4 separate regions of the Homo sapiens genome follow, and regions 2, 3 and 4 are each linked to region 1. Evidence: fine-mapped expression QTL. A gene starts in region 1. Each other region holds a variant in brackets. All regions are shown on one strand. Distances are from middle to middle.

Region 1 (7,527 bases):
CAGGTGTGAGCCATCGAGTCCTGTAACTATAACTATCTTAAATCATATATTGTTAGGCAATATTGGAGCATCTGGACATTTTGTTGTTGTAGGATTTTGTCCTTGCAGGCATTACTAAACTGCTCTTTTAGCCATAGCATCTTATGACCATGGGTTGGGACTAGCAAGGAATGTGCCTTGCTAGTTTTAAGATGGAGTTGGGGCCGGGCGCGGTGGCTTATGCCTGTAATCCCAGCACTTTGGAAGGCCGAGGCGGGCAGATCACGAGGTCAGGAGATTGAGACCATCCTGGCTAACACGGTGAAACCCTGTCTTTACTAAAAATACAAAAAAGTAGCTGGGCGTGGTGGCATGCGTCTGTTGTCCCAGCTACTCAGGAGGCTGGGGTAGGAGAATCGCTTGAACCCAGGAGGCGGAGGTTGCAGTGAGCCGAGATCGCGCCACCAGCCTGGGCGACAGAGTGAGACTCCGTCTCAAAAAAAAAAAAAAAAAAAAAGATGGGGTTGAGATGGGCACGGTAGCTCATGCGTGTAATCCCAGTACTTGTGGAGGCTGAAGTGGGTGGATTGCTTGAGCCCAGGAATTTGAGACCAGCCTGGACAACATGGCAAAACCCTGTCTCTACAAAAAATACAAAAATTAGCCGGGCATGATGTTGTGCGCCTGTAGTGCCAGCTACTCCAGAGGCTGAGGTGGGAGGTTGGCTTGAGCCCGGGAGATGGAGGTTGCGGTGAGCCCAGATCGCACCATTGCACTCCAGCCTGGGTGACAGAGCCAGACTCTGTCTCAAAAAAAAAAAAAAAAAAAAAAGCAGTTGATTTTAAAATGGTGTCACCCTGTCTCTCCTAGGCTCCTGTTTTCCTAATAGCATGAACAGCCCCCCCGTCAGCTCCTACCCCTTGGTCTCTGACCTGTTCCTCCTCCGAGGTGACCTCTATCCTGAATTTTGAAAACATATTAGTATTGCCTGTTTCTGGACTTTGTGCAGATGAAGTCATTGGTATGTATTCATTTGCATCTAGTGTTTATACATTCATAAAATAGATCACTGTGTAGCCATTAAAAATAATGAGAGAGTGCTATATAATTTCATATGAAACATATCAGGACACATTGCTAAGTAAAAGCAAAGAGAAAGCAGACACCGAGTGTAGACTGTTATATGCATGAATGTCTCTGAACAGTATATGAGGCACCTTCAGGTCTCTTTTTTATTTTTTTTTTTTTTGAGACAATCTTTCTCTGTTGCCCAGGCTGGAGTGCAGTGGCGCAATCTGGGCTCACTGCAACCTCCACCTGTCGGGTTCAGGCAATTCTCCTGGCTCAGCCTCCCTAGTAGCTGGGATCACAGGTTCCCGCCACCATGCCCAGCTAAGTTTTTTTTTTTTTTTTTTTTGAGATGGAGTCTCACTCTGTCACCCAGGCTGGAGTGCAGTGGTGCGGTCTCGGCTCACTGCAAGCTCCGCCTCCCGGGTTCATGCCATTCTCCTGCCTCAGCCTCCCGAGTAGCTGGGACTACAGGCGCCCACCACCACGCCTGGCTAATTTTTTGTATTTTTAGTAGAGATGGGGTTTCACCGTGTTAGCCAGGATGATCTCGATCTCCTGACCTTGTGATCTGCCTGCCTCGGCCTCCCAAAATGCTGGGATTACAGGTGTGAGCCACCGTGCCTGGCCCCAAAGATGATTGTCTTATAAAAGCCTATGTAACCCTTTTCATTTTTTCTTTAAAAAATGTCTTCCTTTACCTCCTGGAACACATCCATACTTATTCCCATTGTAATGCCCGTTCCTGAATAAACATCATTGTTTTTTTAGAGAGGGAGAGAGAGTCCATTGGTGAGAGAGTCTCACCAATCTCCTGTCCCCAGGGCACTTCCACCCCTGGGTATTTGTACTGATCAACCAGGTTACGCTTTCAGCATTTGCAAACTCAGGATGGAGATTTTAGACCCTCTTCAACCTCCAGGTTTCCTCTTTGCAAAGGCCAGCAGCAGAAGCAAAAGAGATGGAGCCCGGGTTAGCATTTATTTTTCTATTTACCAGTCATTTGGAATTTGGACATTTTCTGTCCTGTGGTTGTGGTGAGGGTGTGGGTTTTGTGTTGTTTTATATATTCTTTGTTATTTTTTATTCTAGTTTTTGTTTTTGTTTTGGAAGGTATTTTAGAGAAATAAGATTTCTGTGGTTACCATGACCTGCTGTTACAGATTACATGGTACCCTCTCTTCATATGTTGAAGTCCTAGCCACCCCGCCGAACCTCAGAATGTGACTGTATTTGGAGATAGGGTCTTTACAGAGGAAATCAAGTTAAAATGAAGTCATTAGGGCAGGCCCTAATCCGATATGATCCTGTGTTCTTAGAAGAGGAAATGTGGACTCAGGTGTGTATGGAGGGAAGATGTCTTGCAAGCCCAAGGAGAAGATGGCCATCTGAGCCCACGTCCTGGAACAGAGACTTCCCTCACAGCCTCAGAAAGAACCAGCCCTGCTGACGTCTTGATCTCAGACCTCCAGCCTCCAGAACTGGGAGACGATTCAGTCAGCATCTACACAACACAGGGTTGAACTGTGCGGGTCCACTTCTATGCAGATTATTTTCTTTTTTCTTTTTTGAGACAGAGTCTCGCCCGGTTGCTCAGGCTGAAGTGTAGTGGTGTGATCTTGGCTTACTGCAGCTTCCACCTCCCAGGTGCAAGTGATTCTCCTGCCTCAGCTTCCCAAGTAGCTGGGACTATGGGTACTCGCCACCACACCTGGCTAATTTTTGTATTTTTAGTAGAGATGGGGTTTCACCATGTTGGTCAGGCTGGTCTTGAACTCCTGACCCCAAGTGATCTGCCTGCCTTGGCCTCCCAGATTGCTGGGATTACAGGTGTGAGCCACCGTGCCCGGCCCTATATAACTCTTTGTGCAAGTTTTTACCCCTAAAAGATATCTGCCATCTCAGCCATGGAACAGACACTGTAAGAACATGAAGGCTCAAGGGCAGGGCTGGCTACATAATTTGTGGGACCCATTACAAAATGAACATGGAGAAAAAACTAGAAAAAAGTGTAGTACAAGGTACTATAATAGATTTTTCCTTTGAAAACAGTTTAATACTTATAAAATGTAATAGAGGGAAATAGTGACACGTGAGTAACAAAATGGGCGTATCAATTGGTCTATGCTATTTTTGGTGTTATAATTTTACCTAATATAATAAGCAGCAACACTTTGTTAGTGAGACGGGCTTTCACCATGTTGGCCAGGCTGGTCTGGAACTCCTGACCTCAGGTGATCCGCCTGCCTCAGCCTTCCAAAGTGCTGGGATTACAGGTGTGAGCCTCTGCGCCCGGCTGTGATGTCTTGATTGATCATAGGATTTTTCTGGCTATTCTAGCTACTTCCAATTCGCTTCAGCCAATTTAGTTGAAGTTTTATCACTTGTGACTTCAGAGTCCTGGTTAATATCCTGTTGCCCTCAGGACATGCAGGATGGAGGAAGGCACCAGGGAGCCGAGGGAAGTGAGCAGAGAGGCAGTCACTTCAGGGCCACCAGCATAGCCCCCGTCACTGTCCACAGACACAGGCCCTTCCCCTTCTCATGGTTGAGCAGGCTCCACCTCACTTCCGTGTATGACTTCATAGACCGTTAGGTTCCGTGGTACCCTGGAGTCCACAGCTGCTGAATCTGAAGGGCCATCAGAAGACTGGCTTCTCCATGATGGTTTATGGACTAAGGCAAAGATGAGCAGAGCCATGGCCCTCTTCTTTGTTCTCTGCTGGATCCAAGGTATATTGCTGTGGCAGCTGGAGAGAAACATGGGCCTCACTTCAAGCCTAAGTGGGGCAGAGGAGGGCGTTCCCTCCCACAGTGTGGGGAACACAGATGCTTTACCTACTCTACCTTCTATACCTCCCCAAATCTGCCATTCAGGGTTTATTACTTGGGGGAAGGGAGTAACTGAAAACATTTTCCTAACTTTGAAGCTTTCTCAAAATTCAGAGCTCTATAGGAGGGTGGCATACATGCGTATTTTAACTTTTCACTGTAAGCATTTCCAAACATATGCAAAAGTAGAAAGATTAGTATAAAGAACCACCATATGCTAACTAACCCTCCTGATTTTATCTATATATATGCACTATTTAAAAAATAACAGGGTTAGGCCGGGTACAGTGGCTCACTCTTGTAACTCCAGCACTTTAGGAGGCCAAGGCAGGAGGATTCCTTGAGCTCAGGAGTTTGTGACAGGCCTAGGCAACATCATGAGAGCCTGTCTGTATAAAAAATTTTAAAATTAGCCATGCATGGTGATGCGTGCGTGTGGTCCCAGCTACTAGGGAGGCTGAGGTGGGATGATCACTTGAGCCCAAAAAGTCGAGGCTGCAGTAAGCCGTGATCACACCACTGCACTCAAGCTTGGGCAACAGAGTGGGATCCTGTCTCAAAAAAAAAAAATTAGTAATAACTTTATAGGATATAATATATAATAAAATTCACCCTTTATTTTATTTTTCTATTTATTGTTATTATTTTTGAGATAGGTTCTCCCTCTGTCACCCAGAGCTGGAGTGCGGTGGCATAATCACAGCTAATTGCAGCCTCAACATTCCAGGCCCAAGGATCCTCCCTTCAGCCTTCCAGGTAGCTGGGACCACAGGCATGTACCACCACACCCAGCTAATTTTTTAAATTTCTGTAGAAATAGGGATCTCACTATGTTGCCCAGGCTGGTCTCAAACTCCTGGGCTCAAGTGATCCTCCTACCTTGGCCTCCCAAAGTGCTGGAATTACAGGCATGAACCACTATGTCTGGCCAAATTTACCCTTTACAAAGTATATAATTCAGTGGTTTTTAGTATACTCATAGAGTTGTGAAGCATCACTATCTAATTTTATTTAATTTTTAATTTTTTAATTTTTTGAGATGGAGTGTCGCTCTCTCACCCAGGCTGGAGTGCAGTGGCGCTATCTTGGCTCACTGCAACATCTGCTTCCCAGGTTCAAGTGATTATCCTGCCTCAGCCTCCCAAGTTGCTGGGATTACAGGCGTGTGCCACCACGCCTGGCTAATTTACTAAACTAATAAATTACTAAATTAGTAAGTTACTAGTAAATTAGTAATTACTAAAATATAATTTTTAGTAGAGATGGGATTTCATCATGTTGGCCAGGCTGGTCATGAACTCCTGACCTCAATGGATCCTCCTGCCTCAGCTTCCTGAGTAGCTGGGACCACAGGTGCACACCACCACGCCCAGGTAATTAATTTTTATTTTTTGTAGAGTCGGGGGTCTCCCTATGTTTCCCAGGCTGGCCTCGAACTCCTGACCTCAAGTGATCCTCCCACCTCAGCCTCCCCGAGTGCTGGGATTAAAGACGTGAGCCACGGCACCTGGCCTGAATTTTCCTCAAATTCAAAAAATCCTGATGAAGGTTTGGCTAAAATCTTTGGTGAGTTACCCCACTCCCTGTGGAACCTCAGGCTGGATTTGAAGAGTTGCGTGCATGGTCCTCATTGTCTCCCAGGTAACCTGTTCCCGCTGCTGTGAAGGGAAGGCAGGTGCTCTTCCTTGAGGCTAGAATCTGTCTACGTGTCACAGTCTCAGGAAATTAAGCAAAACAGATGATAAACACCTCAAAAGGACCCTACTGAGCATCAGTGGAGCAGAGCAGGGCCATGTGGGACTGCGGCGTCAGATGCCACCTCACACTAGCTGTGACACACCTGCCTCGCCAGTTTCTGCTCTGAGGCCCCAAAGCCGAGCTGAACCTCCTCCAGGGGTTCTCAGCCCTAACTGAGCATGAAAACCCCTGGGGCAATCCTCTTTTTAACAATTGAGACATTCCACACACACCCCACATCAGATTTTGGGGTGTGGGGATAGACCTTCACATTTGTAGTTTTCTAACCCTCCAGGGGACACTAGGCTGAGACTCATTGGTCTCCACTCTGAACCTTCCACTGAACATGTGAGAAAAACTAAGGCCCAGGGAAGTCTTTAGCAGAGAGCTGAGACGGAGAAAAGGGTTCTGAACCACAGCTGTCTGCTGAAGGAAGCTGTCCAAAGGCCAGTGAAGTCTCTCCTGAGGGTGCCTGGGCTGTGCATCAGGAGTGAAGGTTGAGGGTCACCTTAGGTGTGAGAAGGAGCAACTGGGAGAGTGGCGCTGATGCTTCCCCCCGGGTTAGGAGGCATTTGGATCACAGAGCGATGCCTGTTCATTCCTGCTTGCAAGGGAGCAGATCTCTCGACACCCGATGGGCCTCTATTCCGTTCCGGCAGCTGTCCGTGTCAGGAGCGCTGGGCTTGCTCCTCCCCACGGGAGCCATCACAGAGGCCTCGGGCAGTCTGCATAGACAACTGCCTGGCAGGTGACCAGGAGGGGATGCATGAGCAGATGCAGGTAGCACTCGCAGTCCCCCTAGCTGTGCCCTCAGCACCTGCTGTCTAGGAGGCAGAAGCCTTGTTCTCGGCCTTGCAGGTGACCCCAGTGTCTCTGAATTCGGCCCCATATGTGTAGGAGGGGAGTGATTGCATCTGAAGATGGGAGTCTGGTTGGGGGTTTGGGAAGCTCCCATCACCCCTCAAGAGTCCACTGACCAGCCCAGCTCACACCAGGTGGGCCTTGGCACTGGAGGCCACGGCTCAACTCTGCAGTTCCCTCTGGGCAGCATTTCCAGGGACTCGTAGGTCAGCATGGTCATCAAGGACAGGTGGTGAGAGCAGCTCCTCATTGTCCTGGTGACCCCGATGGTTCATTTTCTGGTGTCTCTGTGGTGAGCTCCTGTTACATCAAGCGAGTGGAAACCACCGAGGACCAACAGCCCTGGAAATGCACTGAGAATGCAGGATGAGTGGGCTTTGTGAGGACTGTTTTCTGTGACTTAGCAAGGAAAGCCTGGAAGGGAAAGTAAAACTGCTTCTTCCCAGGGAAGCCAGAAACCTGAGAACTTAAAAGGGAAGGAGAACTTAATATATTTCAAAAATGTAACCCTTGTGAATTAGCAACAGCTTTATAAACAAAGAGATTTCCGAGCTTATAGAATCTATTCTGCTTTGTTTCTGCCCCCATGGCTCCTACCCCTGTTTTTGTGGGTACAATTTTCATATAGAACATTTTTACACAAGCTTCAAAACTCTCTGAGGACAGCTTTCCCCTTTGTGTCTGTCGGGTCCCAGGCAGTCACATCCCAGGAAGTGCTGGGGTTGGGCTCCTTGCTCCACATCCTTCTTCAGTGGCACGAAGCGTGGGGTGGAGTGTGTGAGTCATGTGTGATCTTGGTGTGGGCTATGGCTGGTCTGCAGCACCCCTTCAATGACTGCTTCAAGGGCTTTTCATGATGCTTGTAGCTCATGAGCTAGTGTTTCCTAGATGCTGTTTCCAGGTGTCTTGCATGTCACACACTGGCCTACCAGGGCTGGAGTGAGATCATGAGCGCCAGATTGTTGGTGAAGGAAGTTGACAGAGACATCGAATGTCGGTGAACAGGAGTGACCTTGGGTCTCAATAAATACTGTGGTCAACTGAATCCAG
Region 2 (7,527 bases), 570 kb before region 1:
CCCTGATATTCCTAGGGCTATAGCCCAAGGCCCTTTGCCCCATCAACCGTTCCCTGCATACCACACGGGAAGCGGTCCAGGCTTGTATTTTACCTGCTATACTTCATAAGGTGAAACTTTTGTAGAGGAGCAACTACTACATGCTACGCAGTAAGTCCCAGGGATTCCAGCGTTCCTTCAACCAGTGCTTTCTGAAAGTTCCCACTGTGCTTGGCTCTGCTGTAGGTATTGGGGAAACAATGTAGGTCAAACTCAGCCCTGCCATTCTCCCTGCACAGGTCACAGATGTTAACAACTGACGTAAGATTCAGCTATCAGGACTAATGCTGTGAAGATGGTCAGGGGCTCTACCCTTGTCTAGTTTCTGGAGGAAGTGATGTGAGCTGAGCTGGGCTAAATGAGCAGGACCAGGAATTAGCTGGGTGGCAGCCTAGCATGGGCAAGTGACGCTGGTGAAACTGGCTTCACAGTGGCCATAAGCAATTTTTTAAATGCTATTTTGGTCCTGTTTAAAATGGTTTCCACTGCTCACATGATCAAGCTAGAACCTCTACCAGGCTGTCCTTGTCTTCTAGGAGCAACACCCCCACCTGCCTCCCCAGATAATAATTATTTCATTTCTCCTGATAGAGAACAAGTTGCCTGAGGGAAGAGGCTGCAGACAAACAGCAAGGTCTAGGCCTGACAGCCATCACTTGGTCATCTCCTCCCTGGATCCAGGGCACATGTCTGTCTCTTTCACTGCCCAGCACTGTGCCTGGTGCACAGAAGGCTCTCAGTGACTTTCTGCTAAATGAACAAATAAGTGACAGAAGCAGGGGCTTGACATTTCACTACTTGGGAAAGCTTAATGCTTGTTAACTTCAGGAGACATGGCTGTGCCTTTCCTCCTCAAATCACCTAGAAAGTATCCACAAGGGCCAGACGCAGTGGCTCACACCTGAAATCCCTAGCACTTTGGGAGGTCGAGGTGGGTGGATCACTTGAGGTCAGGAGTTCAAGACCAGCCTGGCCAACATGGTGAAACCCTGTATCCCCTAAAAATGCAAAAAAATTAGCCAGGACTGGTGGCGGGCACCTGTAATCCCAGCTACTAGGGAAGCTGAGACAAGAGAATCACTTGAACACAGGAGGCAGAGGTTGTAGTGAGCCAAGAACATGCCACATCCCTCCAGCCCAGGCAACAGAGCGACTCCAAAAAAAAAAAAAAAAAAAAAAAGAAATTATCCACAGAGCTCAGGTCCTGTTTTGAGTCCAAGGCTCCACTTAAAGACAAACACTATTCTCTTGTTTTGTTCTGAATCCAAGTCTGGCCACTATTCCTTACCACATGGTGCCTTCCCTGAATGGTTCCTTGCTCTTCCAACAAAGGCAGTTTGTATTGTACAGCCTTCTATGCCCAAAAATGTTGAGGCAGCTGAGCCCCAGACTCTTGGTCCTCACTTGGAGATTCAATCTGCCTTGTTCAGTTAAAGACTCATTAGACTTAGGTCACCACTGTTGTGGCCCGCCAGTTTGACTAGAAAACAGAGTTTTGACTTCTCTGCCCTGCTATCTTACACAAGCACCAACTGTGCCACTGTCAAAAGGCTGTTCGAGCCAAAGTGCACACACTCAGACACTCCACATGCTAACATAACAGTAACTGCTGCCGCTGAATGCCAACTATTAAGTGCTCTACCTACAATGTCTGATTTAATTCTTTTTTTTTTTTTTTTTTTTTGAGATGGAGTCTCGCTCTGTCGCCCAGGCTGGAGTGCAGTGGCGCAATCTTGGCTCACTGCAAGCTCTGCCTCCCGGGTTCATGCCATTCTCCTGCCTCAGCCTCCCCAGCAGCTGGGACTACAGGCGCATGCCGCCACGCCCGGCTAATTTTTGTATTTTTAGTAGAGACGGTGTTTCACTGAGTTAGCCAGGATGGTCTCGATCTCCTGACCTTGTGATCCGCCCACCTCGGCCTCCCAAATTGTTGGTATTACAGGAGTGAGCCACGGCGCCCGGCCTGATTTAATTCTTGACGCTTGTGGAAGGTAGGTACTGTTAGTCCCATTTTACAGATGAAACAGTTAAGGCTTAAAGCGGTTAAGGGATTTGCCCAAGGTTACACAGTCTTAAAGCTAGGAGGGGAGGGAGCTGGGATGTGAATCCAAGTCCAGGTGACATTGAAGTCCTTGGTTCAGAAGCCTGTAATGCAAGCAAGAAAATCTAGCTTCAGCCCCATCTTCCTACCAAGGACATTTTAACCCAGAATGTTGTGGTGAGAAGTGGGGACCTTCCATAGGAAATCCTCCAAAGGCCCTAAAGATTGTAGTGAGAAGTAGGGACCTCCCACAGGAGATCCTCCAGAGGCCCTGCAAACAGCCATGCGTGGGGAAACTACAGGCGCTCTCTGGCTATTGCCTCAGGGACGAGGCTGGTTACCAGCTCTCCAAGAGAACTCCAGGCCCCATTGACTGTTCCCTTCCCACATGACACACACATGCAGGTTCATTCCAACCTTACAGCAATCCCCTCAGGTAAAGCGCCCTCACTTTACAGAAGAGGACACTGAGACTCAAAGGGATGACGTCAGGTGCCCAAGGTACTAGTCAGAAAGTGGCCCTGGGGCTTCTGCAACAACCACTATGTCACACAGTCCGAGCTCAATCCAACTCTGCAAGAGTCCATAAGCAAAGGGGCGGCGACGTGAGGTGGAAACAGTAGCCTGAAACGTGGGTGTGCACGTCGGATCCCATCCCACCGTCCACTCGCCTGGAAACCCCCAGTTTCCCCATATGCCCAGCTTCGTCCCCTGCAATTAGTGAGGGCTCACATGGGTCCGCCCCATCCGTGTGGTCGGAAACGGCCGGGAACCTGGTTCTAGTTCTGCCCTCCGCGGGAGACCTGCGCCAGGGACACCCTTCTGGCCTAACCCAGCCAGGCCTGGTCTACCTGGCGGCGGCGGCGGCGGCAGCCGGTCCTCCTGCGCTGAGTTAGGGCTCGCGGGGCGGGAGGTCAAGGGCAGCGGGCGCCTGAGCACTGGCACCAGTCACCGCATCCAGCCGGGGAACTACAGCAGCGGCGAAGTCACTGCCGCTCGGTGCGCACTCCAGCGAGAAGCGGGCGCGTCCTGTGACGTCACAGGCAACCACCCCTAGCAGGGCACCAATCCCGGAGGGCGGGCCCAGTGCGGGGCGGGCGGCGCCGGGGGCTCTTCAGGCTCAGGGCATAGGCAGGCGGCGGCCGCGTTTTCTGGAGACGGTCGCTCTCGGAGGGACCCTGCAATTGCCCGAGACCGAGAGTG[G/A]GCGCTGCCTGAAAGTTTGTCCCTGGGCGCTTCGCTGGCCTCATCCGGTCTCGGCCTTGTTCTGGGCCTGGCGCCTTTCCCATTGTTGGGGAAAGTGGTCTAGGAGACCAAGGCAGCGTGCTGGGTGGGAGAGAATGATTTGTGGCTTCTGATTCTGACATATGTCGTTAAGGAGGGGAGGGATGAGTGACCCTGTTTTACTTATGGAGAACCTGGGGCCAGAGCTGTTTTCCCAGGGTGACACAGGCGGTGAGTAGTGGAGCTGGCATTCCTGACCCCAAAGCTCAGCGTTTCCCAGCCACTCTCCGCAGCCAGGCCTTCACCTGCACTGCTGGGCGCAGGTGGGGAAGTGGGGAAACGGTGCTCCATCCCCTGCAGAGGGCAGGCGTGCGGGGAGCGGTGGCTGAACTCCACAGACAGCTACTGCTCAGCTCTTCAGCTGCCGGCTTTGAAGAGTGTGAGGGGCTCTGGGCAAGAGGCCCCCACATTACTCAAGGACCAGATCATCAAGAGCTTTACTTGTCCCACAAAGGAGTCTGGACCTCGTTTAAGTGCACAGGAGACCGCTGGAAGGTCCTCAGTGGCGTGCCATGGCCCGACTTCTATTTGAGAAGTTTTTCTCTGGCCACCCGTCTAAGGAAAGGTATCTGGGTGGGTGGTGCGGGTGAGAACAATGGTGGTGCGGTGCTTGGCGGAGAAGGTGAGTGTCCAGAGATGTTCAGGAAGAAGAACTGACAGCTCTGGATGACAGGAGGTGGAAGTGAGAAGGAAGCAGGTACAAGGCCGGCTCCTGGGTCTCTAGCCCGGTAGGTGCAGGGCCGTTCATGGAGACAGGGCTTCTGGAGGAGCAGCGGGTCTGGGGAGATGATAGTGAGCTCCAATTTGCATGGGACATCCAAAGGGCATTGAACGGTGGGCAGTTGGAGACGTGGGTCTGGAGCTTGGGACTTCAGCCTAGCTTGCAGAAAGTCACCACTGATATAGAAATGGAACCTATGGCCGGGTGCGGTGGCTCACACCTGTAATCCCAGCACTTTGGGAGGCCAAGGTGGGCGAATCAGATCAGGAGATCGAGACCATCCCGGCCAACATTATGAAACGCCGTCTCCACTAAATATACAAAAAATTAGCCGGGCGTGTTGGCGGGCGCCTGTAGTCCCAGCTATTCGGGAGGCTGAGGCAGGAGAATGGCCTGAACCCGGGAGGCAGAGCTTGCAGTGAGCCCAGATCACACCACTGGGGAACAGAGCGAGACTCTGTCTCAAAAAAAAAAAAAAAAAAAAAAAGAAATGGAGCCTATGGGGGTGGCTGTGATCAGGGGGATGTGCTGAGGAGAACCTGGCGTAAGTGTTTCATTAAGCCATAGCTCCCAAAGACTTTCTGAAAAGCTAAGTTACAGCCTGAAAGAAAAGATCTTCAGAGGCTATATTTGATAAAAGACTTGTATCCAGAATATAGAAAGAGCACTTAAAATCAATAGATAAAATCAAACAATTCAATTTTTTAAATGGACAAAATATTTAAACAGACACTTCACCAAAGAAGATATACAGATAGAAAATTGAAAGACATGAAAAGATGCTCAACATCATTAATAATTAAGGATATGCAAATTACAAGCACAGTGTGACACCGTCTCACACCTACTAGAATGGACAAAGAAGACTGATTATACCAAGTATTCGAAAGAATGTGGAGGACCTGGGATTCTTGTACACTGCTTATGGGATTATAAAATAGTATCACTACAATTGAAAATCATTTGGCAGTGTATGAAGAGAGTTAAACATACTCCTACCATATGACCTAGCCATTTCAATCCTAACTATTGACAGTATTGAGTTGCACCTTAGCCCTTTGCTCCTAGAAATAGTGAAGATTAAGGAATCCCTCCACTCCTTTGTTCCAGAAAACACCCTACTGGAAAGAACCAGTGACTTTCCATATAGCTTGGATAAGAATCCTGAATGTCCCCTCATGACCAGACCATACACAGACCCTCTAAATTCCCATTCTTGGCATCATAAATGATTAGCTGGACTGCTTGTTCCCACAGATCAATAAGAACAAAATGCCTGTAACCAAACCTTGGTTCAGATTCTCTCCTTCTCCAAGCCCCTGAGCTTTGGCCCACCCGCAGCTTGTGCCAACCCACCGCCCTCCTGAGGGTCCCTCCTGAGAACAGGCTATCTGCATGGTAAGACCTGCTCGATCATGACACTCTTGCTCAGCTCACTTTCCCATAACAGTTCTTTCTAGCCACGTTTACGCCTCCCTATACAAGGTCAGCCCTTTGCCTAACCTCTGAGACACTTGAGGATCACATCGTCAGACTGTCTCCTTATTGTAATAGTCCCCCCCCCAACCCCCACAACAATCCTTTTGAATAAATTCTCTTTTTATGGAATCCAGATTTATATTTTTGTTTGATAGTAATTACATGAGAAATAAGAAAAATATGCTCATGCAAAGATGTATTCAGAAGTGTTCACAGCAGGCTTTTTGTAAAATCCCCAAACTGGAAACCACCCAATTTTCCATTAACAGGTGAATGTGTAAACACTCTGTGTTTAGCCACACTAGGGAATACTACTTAGCAAGAAAAAGGGATGAATTGTTGATACAACATGGATATATATCAAGATAATTATTTGGAGTGAAAAAGGGTAGATTAAAAATGAGTACATATTGGATGATTTCATTTATATGGAGTATCCTTGGGGGATATCTTCAAAGACCCCTGGCGGATGCCTGAAACTGCAGATAGTACCAAACCCTACATCTGCCACATCTTTTCCTATACATTGATGCCAGTGAACAAATTTAATCCAGATGAAGTTAATCTGGTGCTACACGGTTGCTGTCAATCAGAATACGTTTCTGTTGACATCTTCCACTCACAAATCTAATGCTTTTTCTACCCTAAGCGCTTCTCACACACTGTAGCCATAAGTTTTGCACTTTGAGGTGTGACAGTAAAACTGGCACAAATTTCTTTTCCCTTCTTCACAATTTCATGGATAGAAGATTCATTCTTTCTGTAGATCTTAGCAACCTCATTATGTGATTTTTTTTTCCTGGAAGCTTGAGAGGGGCACATGTTAGCAAGAAGGAGCACAGCATCCCTGCCAGGTTATCTGTCCTACGTGTACCCTGGGCTAGACACACCCTCCTCTGGCTTGCTGTGGTCTGGCCTCACCCTGCGATGCAGGGGCTCCATCCACAGCCCTCTGTCCAGGAGCACCCAGGCTGTGCTTACATTTTTTCAGGGATAGGGAGCTCACTGCTGTGTGGGCAGCTGGGCCCAGTATTTTATGGGGAGGGGGAGAATGGAAGGCAACACTGTCTTCAAGTGTCATCACTGTCCTGGGCGCATGGAGCAGCCCAGGTAACAACGTGCCCTCGGTATTCCCTAATGCTGGGTAGTCCTTCCTGTCAGAATGTGCTTCCCATGATAACCTGAAGCCTGTGACTCCTAGCTGGTAGAAATGTCTTCAGCTTGCCCCTGGAGCTGTGCAGAACACATCTTGTCTTGCATTTTCTAATATGTTTGAATAAAACCAGCATGTCATTCCTCTGCCACCTCTCCCCTAGTTCCCTCACCTTTCTTAGACCTCACATCATTCTGATAATCTCCTTGGGGTAGATTCAATCACCGTTGGTCATCATCAGCTGTGCCTCCTCCTGCTGGAGCATGGGGTGTTCACATCTAGCTGAACTAAGGCCTGGCCATCAGACTTGTTTTGGCCGATGCTATGTGGGTAGGAGCATCATAGACCCCTTACAAGGCTTCTGTAAAAGCCGGCCTGTGTTTGCCATGTCTCTTTTCCCTCTGCTACTAGATAGAATGCTCTAAATAAAAACCACTCTGTCAGCTTGTGTTCCAGAGTAAAAACGCCATAGATGGAGCCACAGCCAACTCACATTGGATGTGGAATATGAGGGAGATGACACTGAGATTTGGGAGTCTTTTGTTATTGCAGCAAAACTCAGCCCATCCTGACTGATATGACTCATTTGCCAAAGTCTCTTAGAAAGTGGGATATCTCACCTTAAGAGGATGTGAATGGTCTGGAGTAGGATAGCATGCCCAATTCCTTGTCCAGAGATTATGGAAACATTTATGAATTCAGCATCTCTTACAGAAGCACATCATAATTACCTTGAGTGCAACCCATTCCTTATGTACATGAACAGCTGGCAGAAAATGACTTCCTCATTCTTCATCTAAGCAAAAGAGCATC
Region 3 (7,527 bases), 170 kb after region 1:
CCTCAGCCTCCTGGGTTCAAGTGATCCTCCTACCTCAGCCTCCTGACTAGCTGGGATTACAGGCATGTACCACCATGCCCAGCAGACTTTTGTATTATTTTTTTAGTAGAGATGGGGTCTCGTCATGTTGGCCAGGCTAGTCTTGAACTCCTGGCCTCAAGTGCCCTGCCTGCCTCCACCTCCCAAAATGCTGGGATTATAGGCATGAGCCATCATGCCCAGCCCCCCAAATATTATTTTTTTGTGAAGTCAGACATTACTAATCTTTTAGCTTTCCAGCAAAACATAATGAAGCAAATTAATAATTTACAATGTAAAAATATACTAACAGCAAATCTAATTTTTAAACATATGGTCTTCAATCTTAACTACATATTATTATATATAGTCCATATACATCCCAAATTACAAGTGCTCTTAGTTTTTCCTTAGCAAAAATCTTTACTTAGTTGTTTTTAATTTCAGAATTTGAGTTTTCTGAACAGCTGCAACAAACTTTCAACATTTTGTCAAAATGTAATTTAATAACTCATATCTAAACAAAATCCAGAAGTAAAAATCAAGATTCAGCGTAACTGAACTGATGAGCAACTGGATTAAGAAACTAGAAAACTATTTTCTGCCTCAATCTTCCATTTAGATGACTTAAATTATCCCATGGCCTTGTTTTCCAACCTGTTAAGCAATGCCACCCACCCCTCAGCGGAATGGGGTATAAACCTGTAAAGGCGCTGAGTCTGAAAAGGAGATTTGTACAAGATCATGCAACCAACTGAGAAATAATGTTTAAAGCTGAATTACATAGTAGAGCCATTCAGCACTGAATACAGGGGTTAAAAAAAAAAAAAACTCCATAAAGACTCTTTTAAAAGATTTTTTTACCTTGTGTTCTTAGTGTACCAAAATCTAACATTTCAGTTGAGGAATAAATTCCAGGAGCTTGGAAAAAAGAAAAGTCAACAATTATTTTTCACTTTGCCAGAGTAAGCTATACTGAAAACAAAACAACTTTCGATTTCATCAGTTTTCCACTAACCTGTTGTAACTTCAACCTCAACAGGAAGAATGATAAACTCTGTGCTGTCTGAAGCATTAGTCTTTATTCTTATGAAGGCTGTGTGATTATCTGCTTCTCTAGATGAAAAACTGGCTCTCATCACTCCCTTGGTTTCATAAGGAGGAATTTCCTGACAAGTTAACAGACCATAATGTAGCACAGCTTTTGTAATGTAGCAAAACCACCATTTTTTATTGAACTGGATGACACTGACTGAAAGATGAGTATTCTATATACCTATTAATAAAAAAAATGCATTGCTAATTAAACCAATATGTAACACACACTCCATTTCTGGAGAACTTTAAAATGTGAAAAATGTGCTGTTTAGAATTGATGAAATACGATATGTAAGGTAGGCAAAGCAAAAGAAGTCAAATGATCTGAAAACAAATTGTCAGTTACAAAATCACCATTAAAAGGTAAAACTAATCTACAAAATCAGTTATTTTTTAATATGCTAGTTAGTGGTGTTTGGGTATATAACTCAGTCTTGAAATTTAACCAACAGAAATGTCACCATCAGAGGTAAATACTTTTCTAGAAGTCCACAAGAACCTTCATAAATGATAACCAGCAGGGCTTACACTGCTCTTTCATGGAAAACTTAACAATGCAAAGCTTCTCAAGTAAATCCACAGTTTACCAACTGCATTCATGTAAGACAGCATACATTTTCAGTCCCGTAATGAGAGAACATTTATATACTAAAAGGAAGACTTACTGGAAAAAAAATTTTGAGGAGTAATCTCTTTCCTGGTTTCAGAACAATATGGCTCCCTGGGACTGCCTGAATTTCTTCTCTGCACAAACCTTTCAGCATATTTTAGGAGATTCTTGTGTTCTACAGCTTAGTGGCCTTCACTTATCCCTACTCTCTTTTTTAGTCCCAAAGTAGAAAACAGGTGATTGGGACCCTCCTAAGATTGGAGGGATGGACCATCCACTCCCCAGCTCTAGGGAGTTGACTTGGTCTCTGGGGTTTTCACCTATACACCGAAATAGGCTGGAGGTGAGGTCACAGCCCATTGGCTTTTTTCTCAGTCTAGGTTTGTAGGAATAAGAACTACCATATCTTTTTTTGCAGCCACTAGGACTATAAAAACATGCTATTCTCTGTTATCATTATCACTCTTGACTATTTAAAAATCTGAATTCTCTTAGGTTTATTTATTAGATACCAATTATGTTTCACAGGAAGTTCTTAGTTCTGTCTAGAATAATATATACAGATATAATAGTCTGAATTTAATCCTCTGAAGGATTGTTTTATAGATGATTTTTCCCTCAAACACCACAATTTCAAGGTGAAACATTTTTGTGAAAGGATATAAATGAACTGTCCATTGCATATTTCTTTTTGCTGGTTGTGTTTCTATATTCTGGGAATTAACCAAATAACTGGCTGATAAATTTGTTTCTAGATGTTCATATTAACATTCTAAAAACATAATCTCCACATCTCTTCTGTGGTCAAGACTGGTCAGAAGACAGAATCAAGAGGCTGTGTGTGTGTAACAGCAGTTAATAAAGAAACTCTGATCCTCAAACCTTACTCCTGGTTGTAAAATTTGTGTTCCTCCATTACAGATGAGCAGTGATCTGAGTGAGCTGGATATGGAACTGAATTGACCACAATTGCCTTCTCCCTCTTGAATTAAAGCATGGTAAACATTTTTAAAACTCACAAATGGCAAGAATCTTTATAAATAAGGTTCTCTTACATATTCTTTAATTTGGTTAATATTGTTAAATATTCAACAATATTGAAGGTGAACACAGATCACCTTCAAGAATTAAAATTTTTCTAAGTTATCGCAGGCACTTGACTAGGTTCTCTCTGCAAATGCCATCTCCTTTACCAATGGTGAATCTGAACATTCAATTACTTACCTTCAAAAACAAAACAAAAACATAATGAATGCTTCCTACATTTTTTTAATCATTTACATTTTTTTATGTGTAAAGCACATCATAAATTATCAGACTCAGAGACAACTTTACCCAT[A/T]TAATTCGGAGGAAGAATAGCTGAAGTTACTTTCTTTCCATGTAGTGGGGTAGAACTCCCACCAATTTTACTCACTGCCCTTTCCAAAAATTACTACTTATATTCTTTCCTCCTCCAATTTTCATATATACTTGACATAAATTAACATTAAGACAACGATTAAAGAGAAGTCATCCATATTTGTTAAGCCTATTAAGGAGTTAAATATTTTCTAATTTAAGAATAATCGGTTTCATGGGAGCACACACAAGAGAAAACTAGGTTACAACTCACCCACAGTTTTCTGGTACCTCCTTGTTGACCCGTTGGGAGTTCTAGGTGAAGGTCTCCTCCACTAGAGTACATTTCTACAACCTGGGGCAAAAGAGCACATGATGGCTACGTTCAAAGTCATATTCTCAAAGCAGGTGACTTGCTATTACACAGAAATAATTCTGACATCCTAACTGTTTATCACAAAACATTTAAAGATATAAACGTAGGATATGTATAATATCACTAAATTCAGTGCTCTGTATGTGTAAGCAATAGTTGTATTTTTAATTAAAATAAGGTAACTTTGAAAATTTAACTTAGAAACAGTGTAAGTACCATAGTTGTTCCAGAGACCAGATTTTAGAAAGTAACAGGATACTTATTTTTCTTTTTTCCAAAGGGAATCACTTACAAAAATTACCAAGTTTTGGAAACATAAATTTTGTATTTCTTACAGTAACACAAAGTGCTTCTTTATCCATACATTTATAACAAGAGCCAGCAGTGGATCAAATAACTACCATAATTGTGAGATGGGGAAGAGTAAAAATATTTGAGATATATACAAAATAACTCTAATGGAACATGAAAATATGTGGTTTCTACTGGTAGCAAAAATATTTCTGTGGCTTATGCCTAAGCTTACTTTTTTTAAACAGCTTTATTGAGTTATTTATGTAAAATAAATAATACATATTTAAAGTATACAACCTGATGAATCCTGACCTATGTGTTTGGGCATAAAACCATCACTGTAATTAAGATATTAAATATATCCATTATCCCCAAAAGCTTCCTCATGCCTTGTGCAATCCATCCATCCTTCTCTGTCCCTTCCTATTTCTAGGCAACCACTGATCTGCTCTCTATCACCTCAGACTAGCTCATATTTTCTAGAGTTTTATCTAAATGGAATAATACAACATATACTCTTGTGTCTGGCTTCTTTTGCTCAATGCAATTATTTTGAGGTCTACCACTTTGTTTATGCATTAATAGTTCACTTCTATTTGATGACTATACCGCAGTTTTTCAATCCACACATTAATGGGACATTTGAGTTGTTTCCAATGTCTGGCCATTAAAGAGAAAGCTGCTGTGGATACTGAGTACAAGTCTTGGTGTGGTCATCTGCTTTCCTTTCTTTTGGGTAAATATATATACACAAAATGGGTCACAAGGCAGGAGACCTTCCTTTAAAGGTAAGCTAACCCTAATTCTTAAAAAGAAAAAATATATTTAATTCAATTAAATTTGGGGTGAAGTATGAGAATGGGTGGAAACGTTCACTTGTTTCATCACAAGAAGTCCTCCAGGAGTGAATAAAAAAGGATAAAGCAAGAAAAATGGCAATTCTTAAGCTTAAACTTTTTTTTTTTTTTTTTTTTTTTTTTTTTTTTTTTTGAGACGGAGTCTCGCCCTGTCGCTCAGGCTGGAGTGCAATGGTGTGATCTCGGCTCACTGCAACCTCTGCCTCCTGGGTTCAAGTGATTCTCCTGCCTCAGCCTCCTGAGTAGCTGGGATTACAGGCACATGCCTCCACGCCCAGCTAATTTTTGTATTTTTCGCAGAGATGGGGTTTCACCATGTTGGTCAGGCTGGTCTTGAACTCCTGACCTCGTCATCCACCCATCTCGGCCTCCCAAAGTGCTGGGATTACAGGCATGAGCCACTGCGCCTGGACCCTTAAAGGTTTTTTTTGTTTGTTTGTTTTTTTGGCAGGGGCCGGGGAGTTGCTGCTGTAAAAGTAATGCATTTACCAAAGACTGATAAGCTATAGATTTTCTTTGTATATTATTACTTGCCTGCTGATTTGTTACAGTGCTCATCTATAGTGCTTATTGTGTTAATAATAATAGCACCTTAAATGATAGGATGACTATAGAACTTTTTCTGGAAAACCAGAAAACATCACACATTATTTCATCAATCCTTCCAAGTATCAAGCAAACAAGCATAACAATGCTTGAAAACAGAAGATTAGACCAGACTCAGTGGCTCATGCCTGTAATCCCGGCACTTTGGGAGGCCAAGGTAGCGGGGATCACTTGAGCCCAGGAGTTGTAGGCCAGCCTAGGCAACATAGTGAGAGTCTGTCTCTACAAAAAAATAAAAAACATTAGCCAGGTGTGGTGGCGTGCACCTGTAGTCCCAACTACTCAGGAGACTGAGGTAAAAGGATTGGTTGAGCCTGGGAGGTCAAGACTGCAGTAAGCCAAGATGGCACCACTGCACTCCAGCCTGGTGTCTGGAAAACCAACCAACCAACCAACCAACCAACCAACCAACCAACCAACCAACCAAAAAAACCCCCAGAAGATTAAAAAGTCGCCTACTGATAACAGAGAAAATGAATAAAGAAATAGAGACAGAAAAAGTCTAAATTACAAAGTCAAACAAATAATTACACTAAAACTAGGAACCTGACACATTCTTTATTTTTAGTCCAGTGCTATTTGTTCTAATTTAGTATAGTTTAGGAAAAAAAGGAAGCCAAACATTATGTACAGAATATATTATGTGTAAACAAATTCCCACAATAAATGTTTCTGTGCCCACATACACGCATGCACAAGAGAAAGGTCTAGAATGATACATACAAGGTGGCAAAAGTGGTGTCCACGAGGAAGGGCTTGGACTGCAACTATGCTGTCTATGCAATAGCTATCAGCTACATGTGGTTATTTACATTTAAATTAGTTGAAATAACATTTTGGCCACCCTAGCTGAATTAAAGAGCTCAACAGTCACACGTAGCTAGCGGCTACTGTTTTGGACAAAGCAGGAAAGGAACTATTCCATCATCACAGAAAGTTCTGCTGGACAGCTGGACTGGGAAGTAGGAAGTTCAAAGGGACGTTTTTGCTTCATTCATGTTTGAATTGTTAACATTTTTTTCCTGAGGAGAACATACTCATGTGTTTATGTTGTATAATCAACAAACGATATACATTTTCTCGCTTTACAATCTTTTCTTACTGTAATATTGACAAGACTAGTGACACACAGTAACACTGGACTACAAGGGTAAGAGTGTCTTCCCAGGTAAACAATCTATATTTGGTTCTAAGAGAGTAACTTTGGTGTTCCATTTGCTCTCTTGTGTAAATCTTGAATTAAAATGTTTTAACTGGAAAAAGACTAGATGAATTGAATTCGAAGTGATCACTGTGCTGGGCTTGGTAACTCCAAAGGCTGAAGAGAAAAGGTACAGACTGTAAGGCAACTCTGGCAATTGTAGACTGACCAACATCTGCTGAGTCCTGCAAGCTCCATCCTTGTGGTCTGGCCACCACAATGAGGCAGCACCCTTGGGGCACCCTGTTAACAGCCCTTCTACGGCACAGTGGGGCAACTCATGCAGTCGGGTCTAACGGAGTAAGAGGCCAGGCACAGTGGCACATGCCTGTCATCTCGGCACTTTGGGAAGCTAAGGCAGGAGGATTGCTTGAGGCCAGGAGTTCAAGGCTGCAGTGAACCATGACCGTGCCACTGCACTCCAGTTTGAGTGACAGAGTGAGACCCTGTCTTTTGTAAAAACAGGAAAGAAAGCAGCAAGAATTTCTGAAGTTTCTACATAGATTTGTAATAACAGCCAGAACAGGGAAACTACACCATTACCTAAAGTATCAAAAGGACGTAAACAACAGAAGGATGGTGAGGATAAGAGGGAATACTTCCCACCTGAAAAGCAGGACATAAGAACAGGTTCTTCTGTGATGCAGACATCCAGCTACAAAAATTAAAACTGGGGCTATCTTCACCCAGTTGTTGCCAAGTGTTGGGGAGAGATTTCTTTCGTGCTGCTTTCACTTATCATTTCTAAGCATTTCACTATTCAGGCTCTGAACATTTCCCTGGTTCATCCTCATTTCCTCTTCCATTGTTTATGAACAGTTATACCAGGGTGGTCTGGGACAACAGCCATTTTAGTTGCCAAAGCCCTATACTTACCACAAAATATAGTATTTTTCCTCCACCTGTCATTTTCAAGCTGCTTTTAAGTCCTGCAGTGTTGGTCCGAAAGAACTCTGGCACCCTGGACTATTCTAGAAAGCATTCACATCTACTTTTAACACAGACAACACAACTAGAAGCCACAGAGGCTGCACATGTCACACAGCTAAGTCCCTAGGATGTAAGGTAGAGATTTCAGAAAATCTCTGAAGGAATGACACTAGCCACTTCCACTGTGAAAGAGACAAGG
Region 4 (7,527 bases), 790 kb before region 1:
TTCTCTACAATGTGTGTACTCATACAAGGAGAATACAATGAGAGTTGGTTTAAAACATTTTTTTTTTTTGAGACGGAGTCTCGCTCTGTTGCCCAGGCTGTAGTGCAGTGGCGCAATCTCCGCTCACTGCAAGCTCTGCCTCCCGGGCTCACGCCGTTGTCCTGCCTCAGCCTCTGGAATAGCTGGGACTACAGGCGCCCGCCACCGTGCCCGGAGAATTTTTTGTATTTTCAGTGGAGACGGGGTTTCACCGTGTTAGCCAGGATGGCCTCGATCTCCTGACCTTGTGATCCGCCCGCCTCGGCCTCCCAAAGTGCTGGGATTACAGGCGTGAGCCACCGCGCCCGGCTAAAACTTTTTTTTAACAAGATACTGCCAACGGTAATTGGCTGAACCTAACTGGGTTTGGGGTGGGTGTGAGGCATGGGAGCGGGACTTGGCCATGAAAAGCAGCCGAGACCCAGGCTGGGCAAGGTGGTTCACGCCTGTAATCCCAGCATTCTGGGAGGCTGTGGCTCAGGAGTTTGAGACCAGCCTGGGCAACATAGTGAGACCCCGACTCCACAGAAAACAAAACCAAAAGGTTATCCAGCATGGTCACCTGGATTCCCAGCTACTTGGGAGGCTGAGGCAGGCATATCACTTGAGCCTGGGAGGTTGAGGCTGTAGTGAGCTGTAACTGTGCCACTGCACTCCAGCCGTGGGCAACAGAGCAAAAGCTGGTCTCAAAAAAAAAAAAAAAAAAAAAGGAAGAAGCTGAGGCCCCTCTTTGAGAGGGCAATCTAATGATGAGAGGTGGCAGGGGATGCCGAAGAAAACATCCAAGGGTTATCAGGGCCGTCACTGAGGACAGCTGGGGAAGGCACCCTGGGCTGTCTGCGAGGGAGAATGTGTGGGACTGGGAGGGGCGAAAGGGGGCCTGTCCCTCTCAGACCTTTCACTCCCCACTGCTGATGGCGCAGCTCACTGGCCTGCTCCACCCATGGGCTCTCGGGGGAGTCTCTTTGTCTGGAGGAGGCCCGGCTGCAGAACTTCCCCTCCTAGAAGGAGTCGTGGGGAGGGTCTGAGATCTGAGGAATGCCCTGGAGGAACATCAGGGAGGAAAAATCTGTCAGTGGACTTACCCCAGGCAGTGGAGAGTTACTGGTTTCACAACTTGTTTCTTATGCTAATTCCCATAATTGAATCTGCAGGGGGCAGGGAGGGGGGAGGGGAATCCCAGAAAAACTATTCCGAGTGTTTGGGTGGATAGTGAGTAGGAAATGGCAGTCCTAGAGAAAAACCCTGTTAACCACATTTTATAAGTTGTTTTTCCCAAAGGGAAAAACCTAAACCTGCCACTGCCTGGAGGCTGGGTGGCTGGGTGCATGTCTTCCTTGCATTTGAGGTGCTTCCTATAAGGAAGACGTTGACCCAATTTAAGGAGATTGGTGGCTGTGCAGATGCCCTCCCTTGGGACATCTCTGGGAGCTTGGCTGAAGCTGGGTTCCCAGTAGGGATTTTGAAAAGAAGCCTTCATTATTGGCATAGGAAACACCCACACTTCCATCTCCTCCCTGCATTTCCCCAGGACTCTTGGTCTCAGAGCTGCAAAGAGGTAAGAGAGAGTCTGATCCTGTCCAGACAACAAGCAAGGTGTCCCCACCCTCCCACCAGACCCCTCTCTCTGTGTGAAGGTCAGAGGAACAAAACCTCAGTGGAAACTGGGAACTCTGTAGCCAGGAGCAGGCAGACCCTGAGTCTCCCCATCTAAACCGCCAGCGGCTGTGGACACCCGATTCGCCCAGCTCAGCTGGCTTGCTGGTGATGCACTGCTGGCGGCTCCCTGAGCTCCCTTCCCTCCAACGTGGCAGGGGCAGGCACGGGAGTGGTGCAGGGCAGGCAGGGGTGGGCGAGTGAGGGGGCCCTTCCCAGCAAGACAAGAAGGGCCAGGTGTGAGAGCTGCGCTTCCTGCTTCCTTCGCAGTGTGACCAATTCCTGAACTTAGCAAGCCTGCTCCTGTCCTGGCTGGCACTACAGAGGCACGGTTCATCTTCCCTTCCACGAGGCAGGAGAGAGAGGCTGAGCCCAGGCTGCACTCCCTGCCTTACCTGCTTCCTCTCCCTTTGGGAGCACAAGGTGGCCCTTCTATACGCCAGAGGGAGGCCCTTCCAGGTCTCTTAGAACTGCTTGGTGCGGTGGGGATGTCATTGTGGCCTCAGGGTTAGCCCTCCTTGGGTGCTGGGGGGCTACACTTGTCCAGGCCTCAGAACCTTGTCTGAAGACGGGACCCAGCTCCTGCCCCATGGCACGTTAGTCAGGCTGGGAAGCCCTAATGGGAAATGGGACCCCGGAAACCTCAGTCAACATCATGGGGAAAGGCAGAGTCTGAGGGCATGCCCGGACCCAATACTGACAAGAAAAGCCCAGCCCATCCCTGCGGCCGCTGCCAGCAAGGGCCGAGCTCCCGTTTTCTGGGTCTTTCCCCAGAGTCTGGTGGGCTGGCTCTTCTGAGAAGTTCCATGCAGGAATGCCTCACTCCTGGCTCTACAGCCTTCAAGGGGGCCGTGCCCTCCCCCTGGGGAAGGAATGACAAGGCTGAGTGACAGCAGACAGCAGACTGGGACTGTCACCAGAGGAAGGGAGGTCAGCATCTCCATGTTCTGGTCCAGCTAGTTCTGACCCCAGGCTCCCCCAGCCAAGACTCCCAAGTCAACTAGGAGCCATTAGCAGCGCTTTTGTCATAGACGAAAGGGAAAAAGGGTGGACATTTCCCAGGAACTTCATCCTTTAGAAAATTCCCCTCTAGCCAATGCCAAGGGAGCGGGCTGTGGCCTGGGCTATTTACGCTGAAGGGGGGCAGGAAAGGAGGACGGAGAGGCTCTCCCAGGAAGCCACTCGCTCTGGCCAGAACATATAACCTTTCTCCCCCATCAGGTCATGACCAAGAATCCAGTCTTAACCCCGGGCAAGTCTTCCCAAATCCAGCTCTCTCCTGGAGGCTGCCAGACCGGGTGGGGAAGGCAGACCTGTTTCTGGCAGGAGGACCCTGC[G/A]GGAGCAGGTCCAGCTAGGCTCTGGGGCAGCTACTGTGTGTGTGTTGGGGGGAGAACCAAGGCTGACCCAGGAACACCTGCTGGGAAGGACGAAGATGGACCCAAAGGGCACGGCTCTCCCAGCCAGGCTGCTGAGGCCCAGGGGCTCACCCCCAGCCGTCCCTGCCTCTCACTCAGGAAGCTGGCCCTGATGTCTGCTGGTGCTGGGATTCTGGCCTGGGGTACCAGGAGCCAGGGGGGGTCCTCTTGCTTTCTCCTTTCCATGCTCACAGCCCTAGCCTGGCTGGGCTGCTCTCAGCCCAATCTCGAGAGCCTAGAGGTCCAGCCCAGCCCAGGAGAAGCATTCTGCCTTGGTATCATCATTGCCACACACGAGTCCTCTCAGGACAGAGGTGTAAGCACACGGACTGAAGATCGACTCTAGAGCTAACGGAGTCTGGGAAAGGCTGAAGCTGTGCTGGTCTACCCTGGGCCCTTTCAGACCCGAGGCTGGGGCTGGGCCACAATCCTTTTTTTCCCTTTTTTGTGCAATTTAAACCTATATAGTACCACTTCACGGCATCCTGATCCAGTAGCGCACACAGAGAGGGCCTGGGACCCCGCCTTCAGCAGACATGGAAGCTGCGGCATGGGGAGGGTTCCTGATGTGCACGACCCTGTGTCCAGGAAGGGCAGGTCTGGCCCAAGAGCAGATGTCTGGGCTCTCAGCCTTCAGCAGGACAAGCTCCCCGGGTGTGCGTGGATGGTGGTGGGGTCTCTAAAGAGGATTCACACTGTGGACATCCCCCTTGGGAAACAGCAAGGGTCCACGGGCCTCCTATTGGAAGGATAGGGCGAGGCTGAGGCTGCTCCCCCAGGGTGGAGGAGGAAAGCCCTTTGCAGGCTGGGCCCCCGGGGCACGGTCTAGGTATCCACACAGGTTGGGCACAACAGCGATGAATCATGAGTAATCTGAGGTAGGGCTACTCAGGCCCCAGGCCAAGAGCCTCAGTCTGGGGAGGGAGACAGAGCTTAGGTGACTGGTGTGTCCACAGGACACCAGGCGAAAGGGGATGCATTTTCCTAGCTACGTGCCTTCTGAGCCCCAGCAGTGTGGCACTGGCCACCAGGACGAGGCTGCCATGTCTTCCCTGCCCCATGAGCAAACCGCACAACCTCTTCCCCTTGGCCAGGCAGCTTCTGCTCCAAGGTTGCACCTCTGAGCCTTGGCTTTGGCAGACACTAAAGAAGGAAGCAGAGGGCGGTATCGAAAGCTCTGTTCCCAAAGGCAAGCTGACTTGGGAAGTGACTCTGACCAGGACAGGTCGCCGGTCATAAGCCCTAGTGAGGAAGAAATGAAGACATATAACCGACCACTAGGAAATGAGGCGGGTGACCTAAGACCTCTTCCTAACCTAGGGTCCCAGAAGACACAGGGCCAAGAGGCCAGAGAGCAGACGTCTTAGCCAGAGAGCAGACGTCACTGGTGGGGCCTGCCAGGCAAGACACCCAATTCTGTCAAAGTGCCTGCTAGGGCAAGGGGTGGGGGTGACCCAAACACGGTCCCTAAACACGGAGCAGGGATGAGGCCCATTTAGGGTTAATGGGAGACAGGCTGGCAGCAGCTGGACAGGCAGGACTTCCGGCTCTGCTGCAGTGAATGGCCATTGAATGGAAGTTTGCTTTTGGGCCCTGCTGGGTAGAGAGGTGGGTGTCTCTTTCCAGGCTGCAGAGGACTCGGGGCCCAGCACGTGCCCACACCCTCCACGCCCTCAGAACAGGAGCTCTCACCTGCACCTCTGGCTTCCTGGAGAGTGAGTTCAGAGATCCGAGACCCTTCACAGCGGGGATCTCTTAAGTTCTATCTCTAGCTGGGGCCTGGGGCCTGGGCCCTGAGCAGCCCTGGCTCCTGCTCGTGGTACTGAGGACAGGGAGGGAATGTGGAGGCCATGGCGCATGGGGCTGGGGAGGGAAAGAGATGGAAGGCTGAGAGCTCCAGATTCCTGCAGACCTGCCGTGGGGAGGTTATCTCAGAGCGTCTCCCCATTCCTCCATCCGCCGGCTGGTGGCAGGAGCCAAGGCACTGGAGGCAAATCCTTGCTGGAGGGCGGAGGGCTCCCACCCAGTCCACCTTCCTCTCTGGCTTCCTGCTGGTGGGGGTCAGGGAGATGACAGGCAGGGATTGGCGGGGTCTTCCTGCTGCTCCAGCTGGGACCAGAGACCTTGACACCAGGGAGATGTGGACCAGAAAACCTAGCTCTGCAAGCTACCCAGAGAGGGACAAGATTCTCGGTGCCTATGTGTAAGAGTTCACGCCAGTACACGTATACATCAGTGCATATGTGTCAGTGTGCGTGTGAGCGTGTAGAGTGGAGGGGGTCACTGACACCAGCCAGGGCGTTGCATAACCACCTGACAGAGCAATGGTTTCCCCATGGCTTCCCCTTCTTGTCTCGCTTTTTCACTTACTGAATTGTCTCCGCGGTGTTGGCACGTCTGGCCAGAGCCTGGGACTGCCCTCCTCATCCTTCCCACCAACACCAGAGCACAAGGCCACTGCCCGTGACTGAACCACAGGGATGCTGCACACGTCCAGGGATCCTGTCCTTTCCCTTCCTTTGTAAGAGTGTCCCAGCCTCCTGTCCCCTACACTCAGACCAAACTGTTCCATGGTGGTGACTCCAGCCCTGACTCGAGGGGTGAACGTGTATCCCAGGCTGGCCATTCACTGTATGCTAGCTTGCCAATGTGACTGGCTTAGAGACGGGCACCTGACCCAAACCAAGCCAATGAGACGCCATTCTGGTTACGATTCGAGGGCCGAAGCTCTTTCTTGTCCAGGAAGAGTTAAAGGATGAGGAGACCCAGGTAGAGTGTTAGGTTAGAAGCTGAGTCACTTGCCTAGGGCTGCTGAGGGAAGGCTGTTGAGCCTGGAGGAGGGGAGAGCCTGCCTGGGAAGGCGCCAAGGGCCAGAGCCCGGAGGAGGAGGGTGTGACACTGAGGTTTTTTGACACTGTTTAGCCCTTGGGTCCCTCTAAGTCTGATGAACTGTCCCAGGGCTTTCCAGGATTTGTGTTTGTGTTTCCGTCACTAAAAACTCCTGGCAAAGACAGGGAAGAAGGGACAGAAAACGTGATGCGCAGAGAGCACTTGAGAAGGCCATGGTCGGCCTGGGAGCTGTTCCTGCAGACTGAGGATGGCGTGTAAGGGACCTTCCCCACTGTGCTTGGCCGTCTTCGGTGCACAGCTGGGAGCCTCAAACACTGCAGCCTTGAACTTCTGGGCTCAAGCCATCCTCCCGAGTAGCTAGGACCATAGGCGTATGCCACCGTGTCGTGTTAACACCAAACCTGGCTCATTTTTAAAAAAAAACCTTTTGGCCGGGCGCGGTGGCTCACGCCTGTAATCCCAGCACTTTGGGAGGCAGAGGCGGGCGGATCACGAGGTCAGGAGATCGAGACCATCCTGGTTAACATGGTGAAACCCCATCTCTACTAAAAATACAAAAAAATTAGCCAGGCGTGGTGGTGGGCGCCTGTAGTTCCAGCTACTCGGGAGGTTGAGGCAGGAGAATGGCGTGAATCCAGGAGGCGGAGCTTGTAGTGAGCCAAGATCATGCCACTGCACTCCAGCCTGGGCAACACAGCGAGACTCTATCTCAAACAACAACAACAACAACAACAACAAACCGTTTGCAGAAATAAGGTCTCGCTATGTTGTGCAGGGTGGTCTATGAACACCTAGCTTCAGATGATCCTCCTGCCTCAACCTCTGAAAGTGCTGAAATTACAGGCTTGAGCCACTGTATCTAGACAGGGTGAGGCATTTCAGGGGGAGCCATGGGGGTTGTGCCTGAGGTGAGACTCTGGATTGACCCTAAAAGGTAGCTGTTCAAGTATGTGAAGCAAGATGTAAACAAGCCACGGGTTGAGCCATGCCCGTAGCAATCCAAGGACGGGAGAGACAGTCTGGGCTCCGCAGGAAGGAGGGACAGCAGGAGCAAAGACGCGGCGTTGAGAACAGAGCGTTTCTGGGAGAGCATCACTGCTTGGATTCAAATGTCGCAGTGTGATGTGCAGCAGTGAAGCCATGCATTGGGCCAGCTGGCGGAGGCTCTGGATTGCAGTTTCATACGATGTGACAGGCACTAGAGTCTATTTTCCTAACTCAGAACGAGAAGAAGATAATCCACAGCGTTGTCCAGGAAGAGTTAAAGGATGAGGAGACCCAGGTAGAGTGTTAGGTTGGAAGCTGATGAGTCACTTGCCTAGGGAGAGAGGCCCCGAAGGGTCTCCGGGAGGACTGGGCCTGGGTGGGGTGGGGCAGGGAGCAGGCCCGGGTGCTGCCAAGGCCCTGAGCAAAAGCTGGCTGAAGAATGCAAGCCTGCCTCCGCAGCTTAACTCTCTCACTTCAAGCCTGCCTCCGCAGCTTAACTCTCTCACTTCAAGCCTGCTCGTACACTTGCAAAGAAACCAGAATTTCTGGGACCCAAACAAAGCTGGCCTGAGCCTGGGCC

Alleles and levels. Alleles are on the strand shown, and positions count from the first base shown. SD is a standard deviation of normalised expression in the study named. Not every link is listed here.
For the expression in caudate of the gene that starts at base 3,659 in region 1, allele A in region 2 goes with a higher level than allele G (large effect, 1.1 SD a copy in GTEx).

Evidence for each region. PIP is the estimated chance that this variant, and not a neighbour inherited with it, causes the effect.
Region 2: its variant is fine-mapped to the expression of C2orf92 in caudate (GTEx, PIP 0.96). The same link has a PIP of 0.9 or more in pancreas.
Region 3: its variant is fine-mapped to the expression of C2orf92 in whole blood (TOPMed, PIP above 0.99).
Region 4: its variant is fine-mapped to the expression of C2orf92 in whole blood (TOPMed, PIP above 0.99).

Annotation. Positions count from the first base shown.
Region 1 is chr2:97,666,055-97,673,581 of GRCh38, forward strand. C2orf92 (chromosome 2 open reading frame 92) reads left to right here and starts at 3,659. Exons shown (of 8, transcript NM_001351368.2): 1 at 3,659-3,780. The coding sequence starts at 3,735.
Region 2 is chr2:97,091,770-97,099,296 of GRCh38, forward strand. FAHD2B (fumarylacetoacetate hydrolase domain containing 2B) reads right to left here and starts at 3,113. Exons shown (of 9, transcript NM_001320848.2): 1 at 2,932-3,113; 2 at 94-219. The variant G/A (reference allele first, on the strand shown) is at 3,284.
Region 3 is chr2:97,833,739-97,841,265 of GRCh38, forward strand. It overlaps TMEM131 (transmembrane protein 131), which reads right to left. Exons shown (of 41, transcript NM_015348.2): 8 at 3,339-3,419; 9 at 1,037-1,187; 10 at 883-939. Among named protein-coding and RNA genes, the nearest start is that of ZAP70, 120 kb to the left of the region's middle. The variant A/T (reference allele first, on the strand shown) is at 3,066.
Region 4 is chr2:96,880,544-96,888,070 of GRCh38, forward strand. All of the region lies in intron 14 of FAM178B (family with sequence similarity 178 member B), which reads right to left. Among named protein-coding and RNA genes, the nearest start is that of SEMA4C, 14 kb to the left of the region's middle. RefSeq lists enhancers at 1,499-2,054, 7,059-7,527. The variant G/A (reference allele first, on the strand shown) is at 3,033.